2 separate regions of the Homo sapiens genome follow, and region 2 is linked to region 1. The links come from fine-mapping of genetic effects on gene expression. Tissue or cell type: blood mononuclear cells. Region 1 holds a variant in brackets; the other region holds the start of a gene. All regions are shown on one strand. Distances are between the middles of the regions.

What was found. PIP is the estimated chance that this variant, and not a neighbour inherited with it, causes the effect.
Region 2: GCNT1 starts here. The variant in region 1 is fine-mapped to the expression of GCNT1 in blood mononuclear cells (TOPMed, PIP 0.97).

The regions. Positions count from the first base shown.
Region 1 is chr9:76,528,572-76,531,331 of GRCh38, reverse strand. No RefSeq gene overlaps it. Among named protein-coding and RNA genes, the nearest start is that of GCNT1, 71 kb to the right of the region's middle. The variant C/T (reference allele first, on the strand shown) is at 1,430.
Region 2 is chr9:76,457,913-76,460,412 of GRCh38, reverse strand. GCNT1 (glucosaminyl (N-acetyl) transferase 1) reads right to left here and starts at 1,231. Exons shown (of 4, transcript NM_001490.5): 1 at 1,108-1,231; 2 at 236-353. RefSeq lists an enhancer at 187-296 and a silencer at 907-1,446.

The DNA.
Region 1 (2,760 bases):
GATTCTAGAACCCACACAAAAAATCTGGGTTTGGGATTTAGGAAAAACAACAGAAGGTTTTTAGGGTCCATGTACCCATAGAAAACTGTAGCTTCCTGCTTTTATAAAAAATCAATTTTGAGTATATAGTTAGTATATTTTTTCTCAAAATAGCAAATCCATTTGAGAAATCAACAATTTAATAACAATGTTTTTTTAAAAATTGAAATATCTGGCAAATGATTAAACATGGCCAATTTACAAGCAACTTTTCAATCTTAGTGAAAGGGCTGATTTGGATAGAAATCAACAAAATTGTCAGGAGGGGCCATAAGTGAGGGAAGAGGGAAGAAGCTGCTGGAAAAAAAACGAAAGGAAAGCAGTTACTAGGGACAATGTCTCCATTAGTCACAGCAGGCAGAGTGCCTGCGACCGACAATACTTTCAGAGGCCTACAGAAAGTGGTTTCATTTTTATTTCCGTTAAAATCAGAAGAAAAAAATGAATATATTATAATGGACCCAGCCTGGATTATATTTATATTTACACTAATGCAGTTGTGAAATACAATTTTTATTGTTTTTTCTTAAGAAGGAAGGAGCCCACAGAGGCAACGTGGTTGGGGCCTAAGAAAGTCCTCATGTGGCCCTGGCAGTTACTAAATAGGTTGGTTCAAATGCCTAAAAAAATACAGCCCTGTGGTTAATGAAATGTCTTCAGTGACGTTAACATTGATAGCATCCACATTTCCCTAGCTGAGTGGGCCCCCTCTACAGACTACAGGATCTCAGCCCACCTTTTAAAGCTTCCCCAGCCATAACTAGAGACCCCTTCCAAGTGCTCAGTACCAAGGCCAATCAGATTTTTTTTTTTTTTTTTTGAGATGGGAGTCTCACTCTGTCACCCAGGCTGGAGTGCAGTAGGTCCATCTCGGCTCACTGCAAGCTCCACCTCCTGGGATCAAGAGATCCTCCTGCCTCAGTCCCCCTAGTAGCTGGGACCACAGGCACACGCCGCCCTGCTCAGCTAATTCTTGTTTTTTTGTTGCTGTTGTTTGTTTTTTTGAGACGGAGTCTTGCTCTGTTGCCAGGCTGGAGTGCAGTGGCGCAATCTTGGCTCACTGCAGCCTCTGCCTCCCAGGTTCAAGTGATTTCCCTGCCTCAGCCTCCCGAGTAACTGGGACTACAGGTGCGTGCCACCACGACCGGCTGATTTTTTTTTTTTAATTGTATTTTAGTAGAGATGGGGTTTCACCATGTTGGTTAGACTGGTCTCGAACTCCTGATCTCAGGTGATCCGCCCACATTGGACTCCCAAACTGCTGGGATTACAGGCGTTAGCCACCGCGCCCAGCCCCAGTCAGATTTTTCTGTGCTGCTCCTTTCCACTGCCAAGAAGCCCTGTTAGGAGATGCCTCGTTAGTATTACTTTAGCTGGTGTCTACTTCAGC[C/T]TTTTTATCTAGGTGCTGTTTCCAAACTTTCAGTTCCTCATGGTGCCCACACAGCACTGGAGAACCTTCCATCCCAACCCAGTGTTAAAAGCTGTGCTGCAGGCACCCAGGAAGGGGGAAGCTTCTCCGTCTATAAATCAGGGTAATATGTTTCACTGAAGTCCTGAAACATCTGTGCTTGTACCTGGAGCCTCCCAAAGTCCTTCATGTAAATAGTAACTCCAGTGAATTACTGGTCTCTGAGCCTGGGCTGAGGAACAGACAACATCCTATCTTCCACTCTCCCATTCAATCCTGTCTCTTGTCCCACGGCATCCAAACACTTTTTCCTCCAATGTTCCGTTCTTCCAGGAAAATGTACACATACCACTTTGGTGCTGCCCTACACAAAGCAGATACTTGTTTTTTATTATACACACATGTATAAAGCCAAGTATTTCAAAAACAAGTATCAATTTTCAATTTTTTTTTTAAATATAGAGACAGGGTGTCACTGTGTTGCCCAGGTTGGTCTCCAACTCCTGCGCTCAAGCGATCCTGCCATCTTGGCTTCCCAAAGTATTGGGATTACAGATGTGAGCCATCCCACCTGGCTAATTTTCAAATATTTCAAAAGCAGTTAACATCGATATATAGTATATCTGAAACAAAGCATCATCAATATTGTCAATGCAGTATGTAATTAATATGGCCTCTTTTTACCATTTAAGTTCTGGTAAACAATTTTGATCCATCATATCTAACATAAAATGTGCAAATGATAGTTCTAGAACTATAGTGAGGAGATAACGAAAGGATATTATGTTGGATGGTAAAGCTCAAGTGGTTTTGAGAGGTGACAACGTGCTAGCAGCCCTTGCTCACTCCCGGTGCCTCCTTGGCCTCAGCATCTGCTCTGGCCACACTCCAGGAGCCCTTCAGCCCGCAGCTGTGCTGTGGGGGCCCCTCTCTGGGGCTGGCCGAGGCGGGAGCCGGCTCCCTCTGCTCACAGGGAGGTGTGGAGGCAGAGGCGAGGGCGGCAGCTGGGGCTGTGGCGCTAGTGGGCCAGCACGGGTTCCAGGTGGGCGCGGGCTGGGAGCGGGTCCCACACTCGGCGCCTGCTGGGCTTGATCCAGGTACGAGCTCCCTCTGGGTTGCCGGAATGCCCGGGGTAGGTGCCCAAAAGTCCTGGCGGCCAGTGCCATTGAGAGGTGAAGCCAGCTGGGCTTTTGGGTTGGGTGGAGACCTGGAGAACTTTTCCCTCTGGCTAAAGGATTGTAAACGCACCAATCAGCACTCTGTGTCTAACTAAAGGTTTGTAAACACACCAATCAGCACTCTGTCAAGACAGA
Region 2 (2,500 bases), 71 kb after region 1:
GACCACGTCTCTCACCTCCCACCCATCAAATTCAGCCCACAAAAAGCTGTGGCCGCATTCTCATCTCAAGGCACCACGGCTTTCTTTGAACACCATATATCTTCCCAATTGGCCTCTTGCCCCATTATGTGTAAAAAACCGACTCTCTTTTCTGCAGAAAGAAATAACAAGGCAAAGGGTGTACAGGGCAACGTTTATATGCATCTACAGCATGCCAGGTGCCTACAGAACCTACCTCGGCCTAGGCGGTCCGTGCCCTAGCCGGGATCTGCAGGCGCCCTCATCCACGCTGGGAGACGGGAAGAGGAGAGGGAGGCGTGACAGGCGAGGGTGCCTGTGCTGCGCAGAAAGCGCTGCCAGGAGAAAAGAAGCAGTGAGCAAGGGCTTCTTCCATTTCAAAAACCTAATAACCAAAACTTGGAGGAATCTGCCTGAGATACTTAAAAAAAAGAGGAAAGAGAAACCTAGGAGGGGGTAAAATGCTTTTAAGACGAATCACTTGTTTTCGTAATAGACCCTGCGCGCGAGTTTCCTAGACTGCCGCGAGAAGAAGGAAAGCGAGGGAGCAGGAAAGGAGAGGCTTCGGAGCCCCTAAACTAACGTCTCTTTTCTTATTAGTAATAGTTTGCTCCAGGGTGAGTCATTTATTATCCTAGCGTTGGCCTCTTTATCAGTAAAGTAGGGGTGAAAATGCATCTTAGCCGGGCTGGCGTTAGGATTCAATGAAGTTAAATGAAGTTAAGCCCCTGGCACCCATGGGATGGCAGCGAGTCTGTTCGTTCCCTGCCTATCCACGCCCGCAGCCAACCCCTCCGACATCTAAGCTACACGGACCAGGGGCAAGAGGCCAGAAAGTGACTTTCAGGGGACACGGGGCACCGGCGTCCCAGCCCCACTGAGCGGACGGAAAATGAAGGTGGAAGGAAGAGGCGCCGCTCCATTCCGGTCCCGGGCGCACCCCGGTTCTGCTTCCTCCTCCGCGGGGGAGCCCAGCCCGCCCGGGGCCACGGGGCACTGGCTGAGAGCCGGCTCCCTCCCACCCATCCTTCTCAGCCTTCCCCCACCGCCGGGCGGCCGAGCAGGGGAACACGAGGGAGAGCCGGTTACCTGGAGTGGGCGTCTGACCCCGGAGTCTCAGGAGGATGCCCAGCCGCTCCTGCTCCACCAAGCTCCCGCCCCGCGCCGCGCTCTAGGCGCTCCGGAGCTGCGCCTGCAGCCCTCACACCAGCGTGGCCCGCCCCGGGGCCGCCCCCAGAGGCCCCGCCTTTCTAGGCCCCGCCCACCACGTCCCCGCCTCGCCCACCTGCGCGAGCTCGGGGCTGGGGACTTGCTGCGGACTCGCGGTTCCCGCCTACAGGCGAGGGCGCCCTCTGGGCACTGACGTGGTCTGGGAGTAGCGCTGCGATCCTAGTGCTTCCTCGCTCCTCTTCCTCACTGTGCTCTGATTCTTAAGAGGTGTGTGAGCGGCGTCTTTTTAAACATTTTATGCCTCCCTTCCTCGAAAGCAGGAAACTCGAGAAATGCTGCCTTTTCTGATTTTAAACATGAAAATATGTTACAGAACAACAATAAAATTAAATTCCAAGGTTCTCGATATGTAAAGTTTAGAGATAACCATGTAGGTGTTTTTTTCTCTCCCCTAACGAACCTTGCTTCCTAAATTTAGCATTTAAGAACTCATTACATTCATGTGTATTTCCACATAAAAATTAAGATCAAATTAAACTGTGGAACAATCCACAGTGCTGTGGAAAGTAGGAAAAAACCTTCCCCGCCCTTATAGCACAGATCTTTGTGTCAGTTATAAAAGTTGACACAGTTCTCTTTGTAACAAGGGGAATATTGTGTCTGTGTCTTCTTTCGTTGGATTTTTAGCTCCTAGAAAACAGAACGAGGTCTTATTTGTTTCCATGTTGTTTAAAAAAAATTCTGGCCGGGCGCGGTGGCTCACGCCTGTAATCCCAGCACTTTGGGAGGCCGAGGCGGGCGGATCACCAGGTCAGGAGATCGAGACCATCCTGGCTAACATGGTGAAACCGCGTCTCTACTAAATATACAAAAAATTAGCCAGGCGTGGTGGCGGGCGCCTGTAGTCCCAGCTACTCGGGAGGCTGAGTCAGGAGAATGGCGTGAACCCGGGAGGCGGAGCTTGCAGTGAGCCGAGATCGTGTCACTGCACTCCAGCCTGGGCAACAGAGCGAGACTCCATCTCAAAAAAAAAAAAAAAAAAAAAAAAATCCAACTCAGAGGCCATTAGACTGTGATATGTTTGACACTTGCCTGATTTGTCAACAAAAATTAACATAAGATGATGGTATAGAGGAAGAAAGACTTCCCCTCTACTCTCTGAGGCTTGGATAACTAAGTCTATGAAATAAATTGACTGCAGGTAGATTAACAAGAGAAAAAGTACACAGATTTCGTGTAGGGGGTATCACAGAAAAGAAAAACTAATATTCCCTCTGCCTCCCCCAACAAAAACTGAGATTTTAGGAGCTTG